Homo sapiens: one gene and its partners. The protein of the gene in region 1 interacts with the protein of each later gene in a biochemical or structural test. Each region holds a gene or a part of one and is shown in the gene's direction. Other genes may lie near its edges.

Evidence for each region.
Region 2: the proteins of LNX2 (region 1) and KCNA7 interact in a test that uses a peptide from one of them, tested with the Homo sapiens proteins (one large-scale study listed by IntAct).
Region 3: the proteins of LNX2 (region 1) and CLDN2 interact in a test that uses a peptide from one of them, tested with the Homo sapiens proteins (one large-scale study listed by IntAct).
Region 4: the proteins of LNX2 (region 1) and ARHGAP6 interact in a test that uses a peptide from one of them, tested with the Homo sapiens proteins (one large-scale study listed by IntAct).
Region 5: the proteins of LNX2 (region 1) and CLDN18 interact in a test that uses a peptide from one of them, tested with the Homo sapiens proteins (one large-scale study listed by IntAct).
Region 6: the proteins of LNX2 (region 1) and RSBN1 interact in a test that uses a peptide from one of them, tested with the Homo sapiens proteins (one large-scale study listed by IntAct).
Region 7: the proteins of LNX2 (region 1) and ADGRA1 interact in a test that uses a peptide from one of them, tested with the Homo sapiens proteins (one large-scale study listed by IntAct).

What each region holds. Positions count from the first base shown.
Region 1 is NC_000013.11:27,565,030-27,568,529, reverse strand, and holds part of LNX2 (ligand of Numb protein X 2), read left to right. Parts: intron 1-690; coding exon 691-890; intron 891-3,500.
Region 2 is NC_000019.10:49,069,900-49,073,852, reverse strand, and holds the start of KCNA7 (potassium voltage-gated channel subfamily A member 7), read left to right. Parts: upstream 1-1,153; 5' UTR 1,154-1,267; coding exon 1,268-1,822; intron 1,823-2,974; coding exon 2,975-3,790; 3' UTR 3,791-3,953. UniProt on the Homo sapiens protein: Mediates the voltage-dependent potassium ion permeability of excitable membranes.
Region 3 is NC_000023.11:106,926,902-106,930,401, forward strand, and holds part of CLDN2 (claudin-2), read left to right. Parts: intron 1-1,149; 5' UTR 1,150-1,327; coding exon 1,328-2,020; 3' UTR 2,021-3,500. UniProt on the Homo sapiens protein: Forms paracellular channels: polymerizes in tight junction strands with cation- and water-selective channels through the strands, conveying epithelial permeability in a process known as paracellular tight junction permeability.
Region 4 is NC_000023.11:11,659,421-11,662,920, reverse strand, and holds part of ARHGAP6 (rho GTPase-activating protein 6), read left to right. Parts: intron 1-3,500.
Region 5 is NC_000003.12:138,013,165-138,016,664, forward strand, and holds part of CLDN18 (claudin-18), read left to right. Parts: intron 1-3,500. UniProt on the Homo sapiens protein: Involved in alveolar fluid homeostasis via regulation of alveolar epithelial tight junction composition and therefore ion transport and solute permeability, potentially via downstream regulation of the actin cytoskeleton organization and beta-2-adrenergic signaling.
Region 6 is NC_000001.11:113,774,477-113,777,976, reverse strand, and holds part of RSBN1 (lysine-specific demethylase 9), read left to right. Parts: exon of another isoform or gene 1-157; intron 158-168; coding exon 169-306; intron 307-624; coding exon 625-767; intron 768-3,500. UniProt on the Homo sapiens protein: Histone demethylase that specifically demethylates dimethylated 'Lys-20' of histone H4 (H4K20me2), thereby modulating chromosome architecture.
Region 7 is NC_000010.11:133,094,424-133,097,923, forward strand, and holds part of ADGRA1 (adhesion G protein-coupled receptor A1), read left to right. Parts: intron 1-2,550; coding exon 2,551-2,678; intron 2,679-3,500.

The sequences.
Region 1 (3,500 bases):
ATACAACCAGTAAATGACTGGGTTTGTATTTGACTCCAAGACCATGCATCTCACCGTTATACACCTCTGGTACCAGCCACTGCTCTGTTACCCACTAGGAAGTTAACAGAAGGCCCGTAGTCATGGATCTTGGGCATATCATGGTAGTGGGCCCTTGATATTTCCTTTTAAAAATGATTTTCTTTTTCCAAGCTCTACTACAAATTTGAATTTTCCTTGCCGCAACTATGCGCCTTCTTCATTTCCTACGTCTCCGTTCAAGACCCACCTCTTCTTACGAGCTTGATGTGGCTACTCTCTCAACACCTGTGCTGTTTCTATGCCACAGAGCTAGTGTTTCCTTTGTACTGCCTCTCATTATGTACAGTTGTTTCGTGGTCCAAATTTTCTCTCATCAATGAGGACAGAATGACTTTCTTTTCATATTTCTTAATCAGATCACTGTGTCGTCCCTAGTGATCTGATACATAGTAGCTATTTATTATTTACTGATCAGTTTTAGTAGAGAAAATTTTTAGATAATCTTAACAACAGATATTTTGTCATTTTGTTTCTTATCCAGTGATACTGCTTAGCTGTTAATCATGTATTAATGTGACATACTTACCTGAAGATAATCAGAATATAAATTGTTGGGTTTGTTTATTTTTTTAACATCTGTTTTTGTCTGTCTCATTTTTAACTTGGCAGCCACACAACAGCCACTTAGTTTACCAGAAGGAGAAATCACCACGATTGAAATTCATCGGTCCAATCCTTACATTCAGTTAGGAATCAGCATTGTGGGTGGCAACGAAACACCTTTGATTAACATTGTCATCCAGGAGGTCTATCGGGATGGGGTCATTGCCAGAGACGGGAGACTTCTTGCTGGAGACCAGATTCTTCAGGTATCAGTTTTAATTATTCTGTTAACTTGTGCCTTTTTGTTCCATTCTTAACACTTAAACCTTAGAAAATTGTGCTGTTTTGGAACCTAAATTATATATAGATTAGTTTTACTGTTTCTATATGCAAAACATCAGAATTTATGTGTAATTTGTGGTATTTTCCCATATACACAGAGTATTTTTTCTTCCTATCTTAATTTTCATTCCTGCATGCGATGTGGCTTGGCACATGATCTCAGGCTTGCTGAGCTAGCTAGACTCTTCCTTGGGCTGACTAGCCTCTTCCTGCTTGGACTTCTTGAATGACTGTTCAAGGGTCACCTTCATCCATGTTGAAATTATCATCTCATTGGTATTATTTTATACCCAGTTTTCCCATTCATTACCTTCATTGTTGGATTTATCCTTTTCTATACAGACTACTAAAATCTAGAAAAGAAGGAACCATGCAGCACTCATAATTTATACCACAGATTATAAGATAGAGTTCAGAAATCTTGCAGTCATCTCCTATCAACTCCCTAATGCACTCTCCTCAGCAAACACTCTAACTCTGCATTTTCAATAATCCCCTTCGCTCCCCTTACTGTTTTCCCTTTCAGAAGATGATCTTTAAGAAGAAACAGGTATTCTCCAGAAATAACTAGCATGGGACAAGATATTTTATTAGAGGGCAAGTTGAGATGAGGGGAGGAGGATGGTAAGAGTTCTACAATCCCGGAGTTGATGTTAATACCGGCCTGGACCATTTTCATCATACAAAGGTGATAATAATTGAAGCTTAAAAACGGATAACTTCTAGGAGAGAGAGGAAATATTCATGAACAAGAAAAAATGTCTCCTGTCAACCCAAGCGCAGGGACTCCTCTCTCTCCTTGGATTTGTGGTTCGGTCCTTCACCATGACCTGTTGATATCTACCCCCTACTTCCATTTTCCTGCCACTTCTTGAGTCTAGGACTTCTCTTCTTCATATCTAATTTAGTAGAATACCCCATCATATACTTCTGCCTCCCAACTCTCCTCCCTTAAATCTGAAACAATCACTGCCAGGTTAATACATCAGTAACCCTGCTTGCCTTGCAAAGGTTCAACTAGGAGGTCAAGTCCAGACTGATTAATCTAATAGTCAGGGTCCTCCACGGTCTCTTCTACAACCTGTCTTGTTAATCTCAATTCTTCATTTCAGGCACACCAGCTCATTCATTTCTCACAACATTCTAGGCACTATACTAGTTGCTGGTGGTACATTTCAGAGCAAAATACTGACCTGTCCTCGTGGAATATACAATCTAGTGGAAGAGCCAGACATAGCAGTCTTCTTCCTTCCCTGCAAACACCTTATTCCCACATTGCAGCCTGTCCTCATCTCATGAGCCAGTTTGTTCACCTTCATCCTTAAAGCTTTTGTTCAGCCATTCTCCCCCATACTGATTCCTCCTACATTAGTTATTATTGGCATTCATCACTTTTCTCTTCATCACTTGGCACGTGATGAGTTACAGAGAATTGTTTGAACATTTTACGTATGTAGGCATGATCTAAGGTAATTGCAACCACCCTAATGGTACAGATTATGATACAGATTTCTCATAGCTTGTAGTAAGTGCTCAGAAAATATTTGCTGAGTCAATAAAAGAGTGAATTTGAATATAAGATGCTGTTGGGAATAGCCATCTCCTTTATTAAAAGAAAAACTTGGTTAGGATTTTTAGTTGTTGAAAAGAAATCTCTAGACTTGGGGCTATGGGAGTCTACAAAGGCAGCCAGGATTGACCCTACTAGGGATTCTTGGGTTTGATTTCCACTCCCGCTTGTATGCTGCTTTTCATGGTGTATTATTCCTGAAAATAATTAACACCAAGCCTAAAACCTTTCCTTCATTACCCCTAGGCATGGCTGAGACAGACTGAGCTTTCAAACAGTGTTTTTTTTACCAAATACTTAGATGTAATAGACGAATACAGGAACATAACTAATCCAGCTCATATAAAATCAGATTTCTGATCCTGTCATAGCTAGCTATTTAGTTATCCTAGCTGCATTTTATGATATTAGTACTTTAGCTGCACAGGCTGGCACAACTTGTAGGACCCCTTGTATTATTTACATCCTAGCTCCTGACTTGATTTTGCAGAGAGCGACTCTTACAGCTCATTTCCCAGGTTCATCCTCCCAGACATCTTGACACTTTGGTGGTCAGGACCAGGAAGGGCAGATAGTCCTTTTCTGCAGCCCACTGAGTGTTCTTTGACTCTCCCACTTCTGGGCTTTTTAGCTGAAATGTAAGTGTACACTTATTTTTTGCTACTAGCCCAGTATTGTTACAAATGTTTTTATTTATATTTCTTTGAATATAACAGATTTGTTTAAGTTTTTTTACTAATACATTTCATCAGTGGGCTTGTTTCTATTTTAGAGAATGGTTCATTAACACTACTGAATCTTTAGACCTCAAAAGATTGTAATTATCTGAAATTATCAACCATATTTTTGGGAATTAATTCAGTTATAAAGTCTACATTGTAGAAATTCCACTGCATTATTACTGTTTATGGAAACCTGTATACTAATAACTCCAATAATGGCAATCTTACATCTAGTTTAATGA
Region 2 (3,953 bases), on another chromosome or scaffold:
ACTCTGGAGCGAACTCTGGGGAGAGAATGGGGCGTGTGTGCACATGCTCAGTGGTTTGCAGCTGCCAGAGTGACCCTAGGATGGGACAGCCACCGGGACTGTGGCAGCACCCACATGGAGTGATGGTCAGGGAGAGATCAAGAGATATGACTCCGGAGACCCTAAGTCCTCTAGAGACCCCAAGGGGAGACCCAAAGGGGAGCGGCCGAGGAACCCTGAGACAGAGACATGGAGGGCTAAGAGATAATGAGCAAAAAGAGACCTAGAGAGGAGAGACAAAGAGACCAAGAGAGACAAGAGATAAACGGAGACAGACCAAGAGTCAAAATAAAGGCGGAGACCGAGACGTAGAGGCTGGCAGAGGGACCCATACAGAGGCCCCCAGAACGACGAATCTCAGAAATAAATGACCCATAGAGATACTCAGAGATACATCCCAAAAGAGACAGAGACCCAGAGGGGACAGCCGGACACAGACACACAAGAGAGTGAGAGACAAAGGTGCAAACAGGGCGACTCCAGGCCGGGCGCCGTGGCTCACGCTTGTAACCCCAGCAATTCGGGAGGCCAAGGAGGGCAGATCACTTGAGGTCGGGAGTACCAGACCTGCCTGGCCAACATGGTGAAACCCCTTCTCAACTAAAAAAGAAAAAAGAAAAAAAATTAGCTGGGCTTGGTGGCGCCTGTAATTCCAGCTACTAGGGAGGCTGAGGCACGAGAATCGCTTGATCCCGGGAGGTGGAGGTTGTTGCAGTGAGCCGAGATCGCGCCACTGCACTCCAGCCCGGGCGACAGAGGGAAACTGTGTCTCAAAAAAAAAAAAAAAAAAAAAGACAGAAAGAAAGAAGAAAGAGAAAAGAAAAGAGGCGACTGCAACTGAAGCCTGATTCTGACGAAACACACGCACACGGAAACTTGGAGAGACGCAGGACAGGATCCCGGCGGCAGAAGGACGGAGAGAAAGGGGACCCCGGGACGGGAAAGGCGCAGAGCAGGCGCGGGCGGCGGCGGCGGCGGGGCAGGGCAGGGCGGGCGTCCCGGCAGAGGGCGCGCGGTCGCCCTGTCGCCCTCCGCCCCGCCGGGGTCACAGTGCCCCCTCCCTCGCGCCCTAGCCGCCCTGCCGGGCTATTTTTACGCGCGGACACCGGACACCGGACACCGGGCTGGGGCGGCGGCGGCGGCGGCCGAGGCGGCCGAGGCGGGGCCGCACCGGGGCCGGGCGTCGGGGCCACACGTCGGTTCGCGGGTCGCCGGGGCTGCGCGCGCCATGGAGCCGCGGTGCCCGCCGCCGTGCGGCTGCTGCGAGCGGCTGGTGCTCAACGTGGCCGGGCTGCGCTTCGAGACGCGGGCGCGCACGCTGGGCCGCTTCCCGGACACTCTGCTAGGGGACCCAGCGCGCCGCGGCCGCTTCTACGACGACGCGCGCCGCGAGTATTTCTTCGACCGGCACCGGCCCAGCTTCGACGCCGTGCTCTACTACTACCAGTCCGGTGGGCGGCTGCGGCGGCCGGCGCACGTGCCGCTCGACGTCTTCCTGGAAGAGGTGGCCTTCTACGGGCTGGGCGCGGCGGCCCTGGCACGCCTGCGCGAGGACGAGGGCTGCCCGGTGCCGCCCGAGCGCCCCCTGCCCCGCCGCGCCTTCGCCCGCCAGCTGTGGCTGCTTTTCGAGTTTCCCGAGAGCTCTCAGGCCGCGCGCGTGCTCGCCGTAGTCTCCGTGCTGGTCATCCTCGTCTCCATCGTCGTCTTCTGCCTCGAGACGCTGCCTGACTTCCGCGACGACCGCGACGGCACGGGGCTTGCTGCTGCAGCCGCAGCCGGCCCGGTGAGAGGCGGGGCGTGGGTGGAGACGGGCGGGGTTTGGGAGGAGATGGGCGGGGTCCAGAGGGGACCTGGCCAATCATAAGGCGGGGCCAGGGGCTGCGAGGGGTGGGCCAGCCGAAGACAGGGTGGGCGGGAGGCGGGGCCTGAGGATCCGGGTCGGAGGACCTGCCCCATCAGAAGGTGGGGTTGAGGTCAGTGAGAAACCCGGCGTGAAGAGGGCAGGGCCCTTGATGCAAGGGGTAGGAGGACAGGAACCTTAAAAATCACAGCTGAGGGGGGCCAAGGAGAGCCTGAAAACTCCGGAGTCTGTGCGGCTGGGTGGTGAAAGCCAGGCCCTGAATAACTCCAGCTGAGGGTGCTGGAGCCCGAGGGGCGACAGTAGGAGGAATCTATGGAAAGAAAGCCAGGTTGAGGGGCCAGAGGAGGGGGCCTAGGGCTCGGCTTGCAGAGAAGGTCTTTTTTTTTTTATTTCCTGTGAGACAGAGTCTTGCTCTGTCGCCCAGGCTGGAGTGCAATGGCGCTATCTCGGCTCACTGCAAGGTCTGCCTCCCGGGTTCAAGCGATTCTCCTGCCTTAGCCTCCCAAGTAGCTGGGATTACAGGTGCAGGCCACCACGCCCGGCTAATTTTTGTATTTTTAGTAGAGATGGGGTTTCACCGTGTTGGCCAGGATGGTCTCTATTTCCTGACCTCGTGATCCGCCCGCCTCGGCTTCCCAAAGTGCTGGGATTACAGACGTGAGCCACCGCGCCCAGCCGCATTATACTCTGGGCTGGGACTGTGGAGGGCAAGGAAAAGCTAGGCACAAGGTGGTGGGGCCAGGGCAGGGATGCTCCCCATCTAGAAAATCAACACTGGAGGCGGGACTTTGAGAGAGAAGAGGTTGCACCCTACTCAAACATGAGTTCCCACGCATGAAGGGGCAGGGACCACGTCTCCAGCCACCCACCAGGTCAGGCAACCAGAAAGTCAGCGGCCCAGGGATGATCCCTGGGATCCTGGGAGGAAGTCTGGGATAACCAGGTCACGGAGGGCCTTGGCGCAGCGGCTACTGACCAATGTGTAAAGAGGAGCTGGGTATTTAAATGATGATTAAGGCTGTCCCCGTGTCCTAGCCCCAGCCTGACCCTCCCTGAACACTTTCCTCCCTGCAGTTCCCCGCTCCGCTGAATGGCTCCAGCCAAATGCCTGGAAATCCACCCCGCCTGCCCTTCAATGACCCGTTCTTCGTGGTGGAGACGCTGTGTATTTGTTGGTTCTCCTTTGAGCTGCTGGTACGCCTCCTGGTCTGTCCAAGCAAGGCTATCTTCTTCAAGAACGTGATGAACCTCATCGATTTTGTGGCTATCCTTCCCTACTTTGTGGCACTGGGCACCGAGCTGGCCCGGCAGCGAGGGGTGGGCCAGCAGGCCATGTCACTGGCCATCCTGAGAGTCATCCGATTGGTGCGTGTCTTCCGCATCTTCAAGCTGTCCCGGCACTCAAAGGGCCTGCAAATCTTGGGCCAGACGCTTCGGGCCTCCATGCGTGAGCTGGGCCTCCTCATCTTTTTCCTCTTCATCGGTGTGGTCCTCTTTTCCAGCGCCGTCTACTTTGCCGAAGTTGACCGGGTGGACTCCCATTTCACTAGCATCCCTGAGTCCTTCTGGTGGGCGGTAGTCACCATGACTACAGTTGGCTATGGAGACATGGCACCCGTCACTGTGGGTGGCAAGATAGTGGGCTCTCTGTGTGCCATTGCGGGCGTGCTGACTATTTCCCTGCCAGTGCCCGTCATTGTCTCCAATTTCAGCTACTTTTATCACCGGGAGACAGAGGGCGAAGAGGCTGGGATGTTCAGCCATGTGGACATGCAGCCTTGTGGCCCACTGGAGGGCAAGGCCAATGGGGGGCTGGTGGACGGGGAGGTACCTGAGCTACCACCTCCACTCTGGGCACCCCCAGGGAAACACCTGGTCACCGAAGTGTGAGGAACAGTTGAGGTCTGCAGGACCTCACACCTCCCTAGAGGGAGGGAGGGAGGGCAGGGTGGAGGGCAAGGCTGGGGGGAGGGGATTGGGTTTAGGAAGAGCTAGGTTAAGTCGTAACGAGTGGGGAAACACTGAGTCTTGTTGGGTCTTGGGTTGTGTGGTT
Region 3 (3,500 bases), on another chromosome or scaffold:
CACACACACACACACACACACACACACACAAACTAGCCAGGTGTGGTGATGCGCTCCTGTAGTCCCAGCTACTTGTGGGGCTGAGGCAGGAGGATCACTTGAGCCCAGGAGGTCGAGGCTGCAATGAGCCGAGATCATGCCACTGCACTCCAGCCTGGGTGCCAAAGTGAGAACCTGTCTCAAAAAGAAAGAAAGAAAAATTAGTGGATCAGAGGGTCTTGTAGAGAATGGGGAGGTGTGCCCTTGACCCTTAGTGTCCTGAATCTTGGCAACACCGAGGGCTCCTTGAACACGGCAAAATCTTATATGGCTCTGAGATTCCAAAGCATTGACTCAGATACCTGCCTCATGCAAAGCCCTATATTCTAGAGCAGTTTCCCTTTCCTCTGTGGCAGACTCTTGTCCCCCCTAACAGATGGCCCAGGGAATTTCAGGGCCCCCTCTCAGTCCTGGAACCCTTGTTCCAGAGTGCTCCCTCATCATCCAAGAGGCTGATGATGGGAGCATCTATTAGGAGACTGGACAGGAAATGTCTGGGCATGTTATACATGCAGGAGGCCTTAGACTAGGCTGCAGAGGGGGATTTGGGCATGGCTGGGAGGATCTGAACTCTCAGAGTATGGACAGAAGGCTTTGCTGCCCACCCCCATCTACCCTGGAGTAGATTTTCACCATGGGCAGAATGATCCAGGGCTAGGCCACTACTCTCTAGGCCCCTGGAGATTCAAGAGGCCTCTAACAAACTGGAGTCCAAGACTACATTCTAGGATCTGTTCCTCCTGATGTAGTCTGCAGTTTGGCCTCAGTCTGCAATTGAGGGGCCCTATGGCACTGTTGCTTGGCAATGTATTAAACAGCAGGCCTTGGAGACTAGCACTTGAGTTAACACAGCCACCACAACCACCACTGCCATCATCACCTTCCCGGAAAGCAGCCACCTGTCTGGCTCCTGGCTTTGTCCAGCTGCCAACCTAAGGCATGTGCCTACGCAGGAGGCGATGACATTTTGGCTCCACGTTCAAAGTTGTTTTTTTTTTCCTTTCTCATGTGTTATTTCTAAAGATAACAAAGGTCAAAAGGCATCCAGCGTTTTCTGGTTTCTCATAAGCTTCTGGTCAATATTTAATCTGGTTTATGGATTTTTTTTAGGTCTTCTAGATGCCTTCTTGAGGCTGCTTGTGGCCACCCACAGACACTTGTAAGGAGGAGAGAAGTCAGCCTGGCAGAGAGACTCTGAAATGAGGGATTAGAGGTGTTCAAGGAGCAAGAGCTTCAGCCTGAAGACAAGGGAGCAGTCCCTGAAGACGCTTCTACTGAGAGGTCTGCCATGGCCTCTCTTGGCCTCCAACTTGTGGGCTACATCCTAGGCCTTCTGGGGCTTTTGGGCACACTGGTTGCCATGCTGCTCCCCAGCTGGAAAACAAGTTCTTATGTCGGTGCCAGCATTGTGACAGCAGTTGGCTTCTCCAAGGGCCTCTGGATGGAATGTGCCACACACAGCACAGGCATCACCCAGTGTGACATCTATAGCACCCTTCTGGGCCTGCCCGCTGACATCCAGGCTGCCCAGGCCATGATGGTGACATCCAGTGCAATCTCCTCCCTGGCCTGCATTATCTCTGTGGTGGGCATGAGATGCACAGTCTTCTGCCAGGAATCCCGAGCCAAAGACAGAGTGGCGGTAGCAGGTGGAGTCTTTTTCATCCTTGGAGGCCTCCTGGGATTCATTCCTGTTGCCTGGAATCTTCATGGGATCCTACGGGACTTCTACTCACCACTGGTGCCTGACAGCATGAAATTTGAGATTGGAGAGGCTCTTTACTTGGGCATTATTTCTTCCCTGTTCTCCCTGATAGCTGGAATCATCCTCTGCTTTTCCTGCTCATCCCAGAGAAATCGCTCCAACTACTACGATGCCTACCAAGCCCAACCTCTTGCCACAAGGAGCTCTCCAAGGCCTGGTCAACCTCCCAAAGTCAAGAGTGAGTTCAATTCCTACAGCCTGACAGGGTATGTGTGAAGAACCAGGGGCCAGAGCTGGGGGGTGGCTGGGTCTGTGAAAAACAGTGGACAGCACCCCGAGGGCCACAGGTGAGGGACACTACCACTGGATCGTGTCAGAAGGTGCTGCTGAGGATAGACTGACTTTGGCCATTGGATTGAGCAAAGGCAGAAATGGGGGCTAGTGTAACAGCATGCAGGTTGAATTGCCAAGGATGCTCGCCATGCCAGCCTTTCTGTTTTCCTCACCTTGCTGCTCCCCTGCCCTAAGTCCCCAACCCTCAACTTGAAACCCCATTCCCTTAAGCCAGGACTCAGAGGATCCCTTTGCCCTCTGGTTTACCTGGGACTCCATCCCCAAACCCACTAATCACATCCCACTGACTGACCCTCTGTGATCAAAGACCCTCTCTCTGGCTGAGGTTGGCTCTTAGCTCATTGCTGGGGATGGGAAGGAGAAGCAGTGGCTTTTGTGGGCATTGCTCTAACCTACTTCTCAAGCTTCCCTCCAAAGAAACTGATTGGCCCTGGAACCTCCATCCCACTCTTGTTATGACTCCACAGTGTCCAGACTAATTTGTGCATGAACTGAAATAAAACCATCCTACGGTATCCAGGGAACAGAAAGCAGGATGCAGGATGGGAGGACAGGAAGGCAGCCTGGGACATTTAAAAAAATAAAAATGAAAAAAAAACCCAGAACCCATTTCTCAGGGCACTTTCCAGAATTCTCTCATATTTGTGGGCTGGGATCAAGCCTGCAGCTTGAGGAAAGCACAAGGAAAGGAAAGAAGATCTGGTGGAAAGCTCAGGTGGCAGCGGACTCTGACTCCACTGAGGAACTGCCTCAGAAGCTGCGATCACAACTTTGGCTGAAGCCCCTGCCTCACTCTAGGGCACCTGACCTGGCCTCTTGCCTAAACCACAAGGCTAAGGGCTATAGACAATGGTTTCCTTAGGAACAGTAAACCAGTTTTTCTAGGGATGGCCCTTGGCTGGGGGATGACAGTGTGGGAGCTGTGGGGTACTGAGGAAGACACCATTCCTTGACGGTGTCTAAGAAGCCAGGTGGATGTGTGTGGTGGCTCCAGTGGGTGTTTCTACTCTGCCAGTGAGAGGCAGCCCCCTAGAAACTCTTCAGGCGTAATGGAAAATCAGCTCAAATGAGATCAGGCCCCCCCAGGGTCCACCCACAGAGCACTACAGAGCCTCTGAAAGACCATAGCACCAAGCGAGCCCCTTCAGATTCCCCCACTGTCCATCGGAAGATGCTCCAGAGTGGCTAGAGGGCATCTAAGGGCTCCAGCATGGCATATCCATGCCCACGGTGCTGTGTCCATGATCTGAGTGATAGCTGCACTGCTGCCTGGGATTGCAGCTGAGGTGGGAGTGGAGAATGGTTCCCAGGAAGACAGTTCCACCTCTAAGGTCCGAAAATGTTCCCTTTACCCTGGAGTGGGAGTGAGGGGTCATACACCAAAGGTATTTTCCCTCACCAG
Region 4 (3,500 bases), on another chromosome or scaffold:
ATCAAAAATTGAAATGTTGAATTTCTCTTGGTCTTTAGGAGGGGCTGGATTCTCATTGTATTTCAGAAGCACACATTATCAGATTAATCTGTACAAGTTGAGAGAAAGAGAAATACAAAAGCAAGCCAGCATTTTGGATTAGCTAGCTAACATTCGTGCTTAAAACTAATTGCATCATTAAGAACATTTCTGCTTTTCTTAGCAACCATATACATACTTGGAATATAGTATACAGATGCTGCTCATTACTGTTATGACCAAAAGGCATGTGGCTGTAGATGATTTCACTTGTTGCAAATTATCTTCTTATCCATTAGCATCTCATAATTAATGGACAAGGATCTGAACTGCAGTGATACTGGGTGGCTTCTATTCCATACAGTGGGCAGTCTGCACAAAACTCATCTACCATGATTTTTACCTTTTCATGGTGGTTAAAACTAAGGATGTAGCCATCTAGCAAAAAGCCAGAATTTTCTCATAGAATATGTGTGTATGTGTGTGTGTGTGTGTTGGAAATTCCTTTATGCTTGAGGCAGGCATGGAGTGATTGGATAGAACTCTAGCATGTAGCTCCAACCCTGGTTTTGTTTAATAAAGGCCAAGATATCCTAACATAACCCTTGGATCTCTAATTTAATGGCCTGGATTACCTTTCAAAGGTTTAACGCCCTGGAACCCTCTGAAAAACCAAGAAAATGTATCCTATTGGGCACTGCCTGTCCTTTTCACTTGCAGGCAAGCTGAGTCTTTGGTCCTTAAAGGAGAGTCTTTACTAATGACATCAAAATGTCAGCCAATGAGCATCTTGCAAGGCTGCTTAGAGGCCCTGGAGGGAATATCTGGTTCATATAGATTTGGTTCTTGAACTTTTCTGGTTGCTCTGGCTCAGGGTTTCTCAGCCTTGGCACTATTGACATTTGAAGCTGAATGATTCTTTGCTACAGAGCTGTCCTGGGTATTGCGGGGTATTTAGCAGCACCCCTGGCCTCTTCCCACTAGATGCGAGTAGCACTCCTCCAGACCAGTGTGACAACAAACAATGTCTCTAGACACTGCTGAATATCCTCTGGGGATCAAAATCGCCCTAACTGAGAACTGCTGCGTTAGTGAGGTTGCCCATAGTACCCCATGCTGGCCATCAAGAGAGTGCCCACAGAAGTGTTTACAGCTGGCCTAAACTTTGTTGGCGCCTTCGTTTGATTCCAAAACCACGAGGATCCCTCTGGAGTCATGTACCCCTTACAGTCTGTTCAAATTTTCTATTTCTCTTCCATTGAATCCATATGAAATCCTAAGAATTCACCTTCAGGTTTAGCCATTGATGGATCTCATCCATTTCCCACTTTGTTCTTTCAGAATCTTGTCTGCTTTTAACGTAAATTGTCCATACAACAGCCCCTGCTCCCAAGACTCTCACAAATGCCTGCAGCTTTGTTACTTGTGCTCGTTCAAAGCTTACAAATGACCATTTTATGGCCTAAACCTGGGAAGTGTTAGGCAAAGTCAGCTACGATCTTGTTAGCATTTCCTCACTACGTGTTTCAGGATTGCTTTAACAAAATCTGATTCCTGGACATGCTGGGTAGATCATCTATTGAGTAGAAACATGGAGGAGACAAAGGGTAAATGGTACGTGGTAACACAGTTGGAACGTGTTTCTCAACTTGTGTTCTTAGCAGCCAAGCTCTGCCCCTGACTCTGATCACAGGCAAAGGAATAAAGTCTCATTTCAATCCTGAGCTTCTCCTAATTCTTGTGGATCAGAGCTGGGATTATGTCCATAGCTAACCTGGAGTTTGCCAACTTTTGCAACCCATAATTAAAATGATTTCTATATATCACTGGCGTCTATACTTTTCTTCATTCATGGCACAAGCATTTCTTGAGCATACGCATTTCTGTAGGTACTAGGAATGCAGAGAGGCTAAAGAGCTCATAGTCTAATGAGGGGACAGGTGAGTTAACTGATAGGGGGAATACAGAAGATCAGCAGAATGAGGGAACAGAGAGGGGCGGGTGATGATTCACTGTGCTTTGGGGGGCCTTGAAAGGCTTCACTGTCCAGAGAACATTTAAACTTGATCTTCAAAGATGACTGCCATTTCTAAGGAGAAGAAGGAAAGTGATGCCTTCATGAGGCAGAAAAGAGTGGACAGGCAAAGGCGCAGAGGTGTTGGTGATTCTACAGCTCCCAAAAAAGAAGACTTAGAGGGCCCTAAGCGCAATAATTTGTTTGGAGGAGCAGGTTAGGGCACCTGCAGTTTGATACACGTACAACCACATGGCTTTTCATGTAATAAAAGCCTGACCGAATAAAGTCAGAAATCAGACCTGTTGGGTTTTTTTTTTTTTTTTTTTTTTTTTTTTTTTTTTTTTTTTTTTTTTTTGAGAGAGAGAGAGTCTCACCCTGTTGCCCAGGCTAGAGTGCGGTGGCACGATCTCAGCTCAATGCAACCTCCCATGTTCAAGCGATTCTCCTGCCTCAGCCTCCCCAGTAGCTGCGACTACAGGCATGCACCAGTAGAGACTGGGTTTCACTATGTTGGCCAGGCTGGTCTTGAACTCCTGGCCTCAAGCCATCTGCCTGCCTCACCCTCCCAAAGTGCTAGGATTACAGGCATGAGCCACCACACCCAGCCTCTACTGGGGGGATAATTATGGGTATGAACAAAAATGAGAGACTGGTCAAAGCACATTACTCTCCAAGGAGCCCCTGGGCATCACAACTGCAGAGAGTGAAGGCATATTGAGTGTTGCCCAAGTGAAGTTTGGGGTGCCTGGAGAAGAGGATGTATCTTGCTGTGTGCAGGATAATAGTGTTCAACAGGTAGGATAGTGGTAATTACGAAGCGTCTCACTGTGCTCATCTCAGGAGTTTGGACTTGTGTAGAGCAGTGATTCTTAACCTGGAGGTGACTTTGTCCCCAGGGGACATTTGGCAGTGTCTGAAGACACAACTGGAAGTGGTGGTGTATTAATTTCCTATCACTGCTGTAATGACCACAAACTTAGTGGCTTCAAGCAACACAAATTTATTGTCTTACAGTTCTGGACCTCAGAAATCCCAACAGGTTTCACTGGGCTAACTTCAAGGTGTTGGCCTGACTGTGTTCCTTCTGAAGGCTCTAGGATCTGTTGTGGTTCCTTTTCCAGTGGCCCCCTTCCTTCATTTTCAAAGCCAGCCAAGTTGCATCTCATCCACTCTTCTTGTGTGGTCATTTCTCTCTCTCGCTCTTTTCGGGACTCTTGTGATTACATTGGGCTCACCTGGATAATCCAGGATAATCTCATTATTTTAATGTCAGCTGATTAGTGACTTTTAATTCCACCTGAAACCTTAAGTTCCCTTTGCTATGAGGTATTCACATGTTTTAGGGATTGGGGCGTGGGCATTTTTGGTGGTATATTATTCTGTCTACCACAGGGGAGTTCCTACCGGCATCTAGTGGGAGGCCAGGGATGCTTCTTTTAAATACCCTGCAGTGCACAGCCCCACA
Region 5 (3,500 bases), on another chromosome or scaffold:
CCCAAAAAGGACAGTAAATCATTTTTGTACTATAAATTTTTTGTTATTATGGCTCCATATATAGAAAAGGACCTGGTCCTCCTCCTGCCTGGAACAGATTCATTTGTTCATCCAATCATGTATTTAACAAATATCTCTTGCATGCCTACTGTGTTGCAGAGACTAGAGTTCAGGAACTCTATTAGTCAGAGTAGTTAATGTCTGCTGCTGCAACAAACAAACCTAAACATCTCAATGGCTTGACACAACAAAAGTTTACTTCCTGCCCACATAAAGTCCACTGTGGGAAGAGCAGCCTCCTTGTAGCTACACTCTTCAAAGTTGCTGGGGCAAGAGAAGAAAGGCTTGAAGGAGGCACAACAGTTCTTAACTGCTTCAATCTGAAAGGAACACATGTCACTCACAGTGCGTTGGCCACAACTAGCCATATGGCCCCAGGAGCTGGGAGATGTAGGAGCACATAGCTATTGGGTGAGCACCTACTGTCTCTACCACAGGGAGCATTTGAGTAGTAACTTCCTGGGCTGCAACACATCAACCACACTAATTTCAGTTCTGCCAGACAGATAATTCCCTGAACATCAAATAGTCAAAACCAATGAGATTGCAAAAGAAGATATACCATTAATTTATATTTAAACAAATATGATAGAATTATATGTGTAAACTATCATCTGACACAAGATAATATATAGCGTGTAATTTCAGAGCTAGACATTTTGGTGGGGATGGCCTGGAATCAGGAAAGAGGAGGGGTTTAAGGTAAATTTCTGCAATGTAAAAATTCCCTAACATTTAATAACAGAGGAATGTAAATATGGCCATGGGGGTGGGGGCGGAAAGCACATTTTTTTCAAAAAGTAAGGAGGAAGAAAGGAACAGTGGGTGAGGGAGAGAGGGAGGGAAGGTGAGAAGGAAGAAAGTAGAGAGGAAGAGAGGGAGGAAGAGAGGTGGGAGAATTGGTGATGCTAGGTACTTTTATTCCGTGTCAGGCCAGACAAAGAGCTCTTAGAGAGAGAAGCCAGTTGCCACTCATGGAACCCTGAGATGTTTCAGACCCACGAAAGGAGAGGTCCTTGGCTCTCTGAGAAGGATTTTAGGGAAGCTGGAAGAAATGACTTTCCTCAAATCCCAGCTGGAGGACAGCAAATGTGAATGTCAGGGCCAGTAGCCATGCACTGAGGGCTCTTGGAAACTGTTGGTCACAACACCATCTATTGGTAAGCTCTGTCGGTGGTAAGATTGTGGCCAGAGGACTCTGATGTGCCCGTCTTGCATCTCCTACAAAACCCAGCATGGCACACAACAAGCATAGGGGGCTGGGGGAGGGGGAAGTCGGTGCTGCTCTGTGTCCTGTCTCCCAATTGTGCTGTGAAAAACCAAGCTGGACTGAACCACCATGGGAACTGGGGGATAGTTCCCAGCAGCCACCACAGAAGTATACCCCAGTTCTGCCTATCTGAGTTGAGGGAAGAGGATTTCACCAAAAGCCAGAAAAAAACACTTCTTGGGATTGAGTTTGCAGAAAAGGAGGTACTTGAAATCACTGAAAATCTGTGGCCTTCAAGAAGACTGTGGACTTAAAAGCAGACAGTCCTCATGCAGCAGGAGTGGCTACACTACAAATTGGCACCCCAAAATACAAATATCTATTTGATGACTTAGATAAGGAATGGGCAGGAGCTGGGAGTGGTGACTTACCCCTGTAATCCCATCACTTTGGGAGGCTGAGGTGGGAGGATTGCTTGAGGCCAGGAGTTCAAGACCAGCCTGGGCAACAAAATGAGATCCCATCTCTACAGTAACAAAATTTTTTAAAACTAGCTGGGCACAGTGGTGTATGCCAGTAATCCCAGCTACTCAGGAGGCTGTGGCAGGAAAATCACTGGAGCTGGAGTTAGAAGCTGCAGTGAACTGTGATCATGCCACTGCACTCCATCCTGGGCAACAAAGTGAAACTCCATCCATCTCTAAAAATAAAATATTTTTAAAAAAATATTTAAAGAGTGTAAGAATGGGCAGGAAGATTACCAGGAGGAAAAGGCTTGAAAGAAACTCAAAAGCTAAAGGCAACAATGCAAGGAGATAAAACAGCCCGAGATGACACCTGTGGGGCTCCTAAAGGAGCTGGAAGGAGTAACAACGAGCCAGGACCTAATGCCTAACTTCTCATCAGAAACAGCTGTGTAAAGTATTTTCTTGTGCTTAACGAGGAAACTGGGGAAGAGAGACCTGAAGCAGAGGAGCTGGATGAAATGCCTGGAGGGAGAAATGTAAGTTTGCAATGATTCTCCCAGAGAGTTTAATTTTGACCTAGAACCCAGAAAAGTATCACTCTTTAGCAGAGAAGTAAGCCTTAAAGTGTTTACAGAAAGGCAAAAAGCAGATACCTATAATACTTTAGTTAATAATCATAATTATCACTGGGTACAGTGGCTTGCACCTGTAATCCTAGAAATGCAGGAGGCTGAGACAGAAGGATCATCACTTGAACCCAGAAATTCAAAGCCACGGTGATCATGCCACTGCACTCCAGCGTGGGCAACAGAGCAAGATCTCACCTCAAAATATATACATAAATAAATAATTATAATAATCATTGCCAGTTATTAAATTCTTCCTAAGTGCAATCTCTGTTCTTGCAAAATCTCACTTAACTTTTCATTCGTCTGACAAAAATGTATCATCATGTCTCTTTGGAACTTACAGCTATAGAAGAATGTAATTCAATGCAACAAGTTGTATTGTATAAACTACAGATAGATTAATGAGGTAAATGGTGGTGGTAGCAGGACTGTATACTTGTATATTACCAGCTCTGTATAACTGATACCTCAAGATTCAATCTCATTGTATTCTACACAGTCAATACAGCATGCAGTACTCTGAGGACAGTGCCAGAAATAAAAATAACTACTATTTATTGAGCTGCATATTGGCTCTTCAGCTTAATCTTTACAAAAATCAGGAAAATATGTATTAGCTTTAGGTTTAAAAAGTTGAAAACTGAGGCTGGGGGTGAGGGAAGGACATGCCCAAGGCCTCGTGGATAGAAGATGGCAGAAACAGGAAGTGAACACAAGGCAAAGCTTCTAAGTCTGCATCCTTTTCCCCTGCCCAGACCCTGTTTCTAAAGGCAGGAATGGGCTGCCTTTAGAATTGAAGAGCTTGGTCTAGGCTTGAGCACAATAAGCGCAGAGGGTATATGGGGGTTGACCCATTTGTAACAATATAATCAATGATGTGAAATTAGGAGTATGAATTAAGTTTAAAGCATGGATGACCTGCATCCCATTCACACATGCCTTCCCTGGAAACAGTAGAAGGGATGAGCAAAGGGCCAAAAATGAGCAGAGTGGAGAGGGGGCAAAGATATGGCAAACTCATGTCCCTGGCTCCATCATGTCCCTGGCTTGACATCACAGTCAAGTAATGCTTTTTCTAAAGTGTTTGCAAACATTTGGGCTAAATTTGGTAAAGTGGTAAGCCTTACAGTTAGA
Region 6 (3,500 bases), on another chromosome or scaffold:
TATTTGTCAGTGTGCTTGGGTGCCTCTCTGACTTTATTCAAGGTATTGACCATTCAGTTCTTAGTTTGTAGAAGAAATGGCAACGTTGGAAACAATAACCTATTTTAATTCTTTAATTATATTATAGTTGTACCTCAGTCCATTTTTCCCTCTTTTGTTTTATCTTAGGTCAACAGGACATACTGCTGTGGCACCTACCGAGCAGGTCCTATGCGGCAGATAAGTCTCGTTGGAGCAGTAGATGAAGAAGTTGGTGATTATTTCCCAGAGTTCCTTGATATGTTAGAAGAATCACCATTTCTGAAAGTGAGTGTTAATTAAGATTATTAAAGTTTTGATCTTTACTTAAGTGGGCACTTTATATGTTGAAGAGTATTTAGCTAATATTGCCTATTGAAATTAAATTTATCCAGTGTTTTGCACAGAAATGTTTAGATAGAATAATATTAGTACAAAGTACTTAAATTCAATTATTCTTTTTAATATAAATTACTATGTAAATAGCATTTATTTCTTTATATACAGTTGTAAAAAAGCCTTCTTAGAACTTTTATTTGGGTGGGAGGATTAACTTATAAATCATTGAAACAATTTTTTAATGTGACTAATCCGTCTGATTTCTAGATGACTTTGCCCTGGGGTACACTTTCTAGCCTCCGACTCCAGTGTAGGTCCCAGAGTGATGATGGGCCTATAATGTGGGTAAGGCCAGGAGAACAGATGATCCCTACAGCAGATATGCCAAAGTCACCCTTCAAAAGACGACGGTAAATATTTCTTTTTCTCAAATAAGCAAAACTACTTTTTTTTAGTTGGTTGCTTATAAAAATGAGCACAGTTTGAAAACCATTTGTCTTGGGCTCCCTTAAGTAAATGTTTTAGTTGTCGGTTCCTCTTTTCAGTCCAATCATCACAGTTATCACAGTGAGGCATTTTTCTAAAACACAAATTTAATTTTTACTTATTTTTTAAAAACCTGTGCCCTAACTGCCTGCAGGATAAAAGATCAAACCCCTTAGTGTGGTTTACATTAATAATCAGGTCAACTGTACCTCTTCTAGATGTATCTGTGTTTAGTCTTCTCCGGCCATACCGAATTCACTTTCCAAACCATAGTCTATCATAACTCTTTGCTTTTGCACTATTTTTTTTTTTTTTTTTTTTTTGAGATAGGGTCTCACTCTGTTGCCCAGAGCTAGAGTGCAGTGGTACAATCATAGCTCACTGTATTCTTGAACTTCTGGTCTCAGGAGAGCCTCCCAAGTAACTGTGGCTATAGGTGTGTACCACCATGCCCATCTGATTAAAAAAATTGTTTTGTGTATTTTATTTTTGTAGAGATGGGGTCTCACCATATTGCCCAGGTTGGCTTTGAACTCCTGGCCTCAAATGATCCTCCTGCCTCAGCCTCCCAAAGTGCTGGGGTTACCGTCCCACAGCAAACTTAATACATTTTCAAAACTTAGCTTGAGCTGGGCACAGTGGCATATGCCTTTAGTCCTAGCTACCTGGTAGGCTGAAGTAGGAGGATCAGTTGAGCCCAGGACTCCACGACAAGATCCTGACTCAAACCCAAACCAAAACCAAACAAAACTTAACTTGGACGTCACCTCCTTTGTGAAGTTTTTCTTTCCTTCCTTAGGTAATTAATTGTTCCCTACAATGTTCTGTTCATTAAAGTTTTGTTTACATGTTTTTATTTTCTACTAACATTTGAGGTGTGCTTTGGGAAGACAGGGACTATTTTATTCATCTTTGTCCTCATGACATATACTAGGTAACCAGTATTTGCTACATGAAACCAATAATGTTCTATAGGACCGAGCCTCAGTAATTCATATTGTGCTAACATGTTTTGTGTTTCAGACTTTGAAGACAAATGTAGATTAACTCACTCTCTAGTACTTTGAAAAATCTAATTTAATGAGACTGAAAATGATCTATACCTGCTTAGACTACGAAAATAGCAATTCAAAATAAGTGCCCAGAAGTGAGTTTTAATGGACTAATCTAAACCTTAACTTAAGGCTCATAGGAGAATGATACTTGAGCTAAGTATGGAATAATCTTAGGTACTTGAAATGTATGAAAATACTTTGAAAACATTATGTACGATGCAGGGTGGTGGCATGGTAAAAACCCAGGAGTCATTTGAAAGTTCTGCACATTGCTAGATTATAGCAGTTTTTGTTGCAGGATGATGACGAATCTTGAAATCTTATTAAATTGTTAAATACTATATACATTTTTTGTTCTGTAATCTTTCCTCAAAAAATGACCATCATTTGTTTCCTGATTTTTATAAACTTAAGAAAAAAGTAATAGGAAAGAGTAAAAAGAGGGCAGGTGCAGTGGCTCACACCTGTAATCCCAGAACTTTGGGAGGCTGAGGCAGGCAGATTGCTTGAGTCCAGGAGTTCAAGACCAGCCTGGGCAACATGACAAAACCCTGTCTCTAGTAAAAATACAAAAATTAGTGTGGTGGCACGCTCCTGTAATCCTAGTTACTGAGGTGGTTGAGGCATGAGAATCGCTTGAACTCAGGAGGCCGAGGTCGCAGTGAGCTGAGATGGTGCTTCTGCACTCCAGCCTGGACGACAGAGTAAGACTCATCTCAAAAAGAAAAAAAAAAAGAAGAGTAGAAAGAAGGCAGGCTGGGCATGGTGGCTCACACCTGTAATCCCAGCACTTTGGGAGGCCAAGGCAGGCGGATCACCTGAGGTCAGGAGTTCGAGACCATCCTGGTCAACATGGTGAAACCCCATCTCTACTAAAAATACAAAAATTAGCTGGGCATGGTGGCAGCCGCCTGTTATCCCAGCTACTCGGGAGGCTGAGGCAGGAGAATTGCTTGAACCTGGGAGGCGAAGGTTGCAGTGAGCCGAGATTGTGCCACTCCACTCAAGCCTGGGGGACAAGAGCAAGACTTCATCTCCAAAAAAAAAAAAAAGGTAGCCACCATTTAGGCATATTAACCTTTCAAATTATATATAGCCATAAATAATCTTTTTACAAAATCCATTCTTTGTGTGATGTTTACTTTAAAACTTGGGAATTTTTACTGTATGGTTGTATCAAGATTTATTTAACCAATTCTTGGTTTTTGTTTTTGTTTTTTCTTTGAGACAGGGTCTTACTCTGTCACCTAGGCTGGAGTGCAGTGGCATGATCAGGGCTCACTGTAGCCCATCTCCCAGGCTCAAGTGATCCTCCCACCTCAGCCCCACCAAGTATCTGGGACTACAGGTGCCTGCCACCATGCCTGGCTAGTTGTTTTTTGTTGTTGTTGTTGTTGTTTTTGAGACAGAGTCTTGCTCTGTCACCCAGGCTGGAGTGCGGTGGTGCGATCTCGGCTCACTGCAAGCCCCTCCTCCCGGGTTCACACCATTCTCCTGCTTCAGCCTCCCAAGTAGCTGGGACTACAGCCTCCCGCTATGATGCCCGGCTAATTTTTTTTTTTATTTTTAGTAGAGATGGGGTTTCAACGTGTTAGCCAGGAT
Region 7 (3,500 bases), on another chromosome or scaffold:
CTGCGCCTCCGCCCACAGTGGCACCGCCCCTCGCCCCCGTAGCTGAGCAGGAGTCTGAGTCCTGCAGGAAGGCGCGGCGGCCACAGCAGCCCCAGGGAGGCCGTGAGAGGACGCGTGAGGGCCCGGGGCAGACCACCCCAGGCTCTTCAACACAACAGATGAGAACGAAGTCCTTGTTCCAGGCGACTCACTGAGGAAATGCTCCGATAGACTCGGAGAGGGCTGGACACAGAGTGGACCCCACTCTCTTGGCTTCTCTCGCGGATCTGGGTTTGCAACAATGGCTCGTCGGAACTGTGTAGAGCGTTCAGGTTTATTTTAGACCCTGGGTCAATGTCTTGGAGGAAAAGCCATTGACTCTCGTGGAAGAATCCTGGGGACAAGAATCTGGGGCGTCGCTCACGCCCTGTTAAAACTTCAGTTCTTCTACCCACATGGGGCATTCTCCACCTCCCAGCAGCAGATAACTCACTGGATAACCTGATGTCGGGATTTGGCCGGGAAAACATGCTTTTCTGTGACTTTGGAGCTGTTTGCACGTGGCAGGAAGTGGGCGCCTACTAAACCAGCAAACGTGGGACAACCAGCCTGGCACCGCCCGAGCCACGCCAGAGCCCCCATGCATCGTCTCCTGATGGCAAGCACTCCAGTAGCCAGAACACCAAGGAGGGACGTGCGAATGTCCACAGTTGGCCGGGCTGTCCCTGGGCTGATCTCTGGGGGAAGCAGGAGCCCCAGCTGGAGCTCGGACCGGACACTCACCCCACGACTGTTGCAGGAGGCAACTGACGCTTCGGGCTCTGGGGCACTCAGGAGAATCTGGACAGAGGCCCACCCAGCTCACCTCTTTACAGAGGGGCAGAGTGAGGGTGGGGCTCTCCTGGGCCCTGACTCCCCCGAAAACCCTCAGGGGCCTCTGTCCAGGGTGGGCCTCAGAGCCAAGCCTGAACCACAGGGCGCTGTCTCTCTGTGGGGTCCTGGTGTCCAGGAAGAAATGGGCAGATTCTAAACACTCCCCGGAAAGCAAAGTGTCTGCTGTCACTCCAGCTCTGCGGCCCCACAGCGACGCCCGCTCCTCTCCCAGGTGCCTTCGCCCTCGCACAGGTCCAGGCTCCTCGTCCCGGGATGCAGGGCCCCTCCGGTGCCCGCCTGGCCAGTGCTGTTCGAACCCTGGGGCAGGGGCCCTATTTCGGGCTTTGACTGTCAGCCAGTCCCTTGGCTCCCCAGAGCACCCTCTGTCCACGGTGGACACTCTCTAGCCAGCCAGGGCCTCGTCTTGGCTGGACGGACAAGAAGTGTGGCCTCAGGAGGGAAGCAGGAGCTCTCGGGCCCGCTGGCTGCCTGCATCCCGACACAGGTGACACTGCCTCTGCCCATGGCCCTTCCTGCACAGGAGGGTCCCTCTCCACTTCCCGCCTCACTCAGCCGGAGCCATCCCAGAGGCCCGGCCGGCTGCCTCCTCCTGCCCCGATGCCCAGGGCAGCATCCATGGCGTGGTCAGAGTGGCTGGAGCCTGGCACAGGTGCAGCGATCACCAGGGGGCTGGGGAGGGGCCAGGCGGCTGCAGCCCTCACCCCTGCTGGCACCCACCCACAGGGTTCTTACCGGAACATGGCACCCACCCTGCTCGCCTGCCTGAGGTTCATAACTAAACCCTACACAGTGGGGCCCTGAAGCACAGACATGTTTCCCACAGTCTGGAGGCTGGAAGCCTGAGACAGAGCTGAGTGCAGGCTGGTGCCCCGAGGCCCCCTCCTGGGCCTGTGCACGCATGTTTCTGGGCTGATGCCCCTGAAGCCCCCTCCCCAGCCTGTGCACCCCTCTGTGCTTCCCCGGTGAGCTCACCTCACTCACCTGATGAAGAAAAGATGAAGCTCCATCAGCTCCAAGCCTTTCCAGCTGGGTCGATTTTCCCCCAGTCTACTCTGCCACAGAGAACACACATTCCCCTTTGAACTCTGACCCTGAACCCTTTTCTTGGGCCGAGAAGCAGGTGGAGTTTGCGGCCTCCGGTCCAGGTCTGTTGGTGCCGAACAGTCTCCACTCTTTCTCCACCTCTCGCAGAAGCTCGTACAGAATCCTCCCGGAAGATGTTGACAAGCAGGGTTTCGATGAGTGTGGGGCTCCCAGTGCAGGGCTGGGGCCATCCCATGGTTTCCCTGCCTCTCTGTAAGGCCCATCCAGATCCCACCTGGCCACCCGCAGGCCACGGGAAGAGAGGAGGCTGGAGGCAGGCATCAGTCGGCCGATACATGGCCCCAGGAGCCAGCCTCAGAGCCACACAAGGATGCCTTTGGCCAGCAGAGCCAGTGGAGGGCGAGGACAGACAGCACTCCGTGGCCACGTGGGGCCCCTCCCGTGCACTCCCTGAGCATCCACAGACGCAGCCTGACCGTACCTCCCCAGGCAGCCCCCCTTCCCTGAGACCCCACACGAAAATGCCTGGAGCGGCTGCAGGGGAAGCCGAGCCCCAAGGGTAGGCTCAGGCGACGGCGCCGCCCACACAGACCCACCAGCCAGTCACACACGTCTCCTTTGCTTTATCCTCAGGATCTGAAGACAGTGCTCTCCCTGCCCCGCTACCCAGGGGAGTTCCTGCACCCCGTGGTGTACGCGTGCACGGCCGTCATGCTGCTCTGCCTCCTGGCCTCCTTCGTCACCTACATCGTGCACCAGAGGTGAGCCTGGCATGGGCAAGGGCGCCCCCTGTGCCCAAGAAACCTGCTTTTACCTTCAAAGGCAAGTCCCTGAAGGGCAATGCCACTGCCCCCTCATGTAGCAAGAAGTCCTTGAAGGTACAACTCAGGTCACCAGCTAGCTCAGACCCGCTCAGCAGCCTGGTGCCCATCACACAGCCGAAGGGTGGATGGAGCTCAGGGAAGCCGCGCCTGTCCACTCAGGCCTCCGTCAGGGTCTTCTCCACGGCATCCCCCGTGTCCTTAACTGGGCAAAATAAGTTCTTCCAGAAATAGGTGTGGTGTCCGTCCAGGCACCCTGAGGAGCTCAGTTCCCCCGGGCAGTCACTATGGCCTGCAGAGCCTGGGAGAGGCACCAAGAACATGAGGGTGTCCAGCCGCAGTCAGGGTGGGCATGCCCACAGCCAGTCATGGGCGGGGGTTCGGCTATGTCTGAGGCCAAGGTCGCCTCGGTCACGGACAGAGCTTAGAGGCGCCCAGGGCCACAGTCTCATCAGAGACTCGGGCACACACGAGGCTGTGATCACAGGAAGAGGCTTGGGCGGTTCCGAAACTGTCATCTTGGTCTGTTTGGGCTGCTGCAGCAGAACACGGGGGCCTCGATGGTTTATCGACAGGAGAAACTGACTTCTCAGTTCTGGAGGCCGAGGTCCCAGATCAAGGCACCCATGACGCTGTGTCTGGTGCGTCTGGAGAGGGCCAGCTCCAGGCTCACAGACGGCACCCACTGCCTGTGTCCCTGCCTGTGTCCCTGCATGTGGAGGGTGAGGCACTCTGGGGGCCTCTTTCTCAAGGTCCCTGATC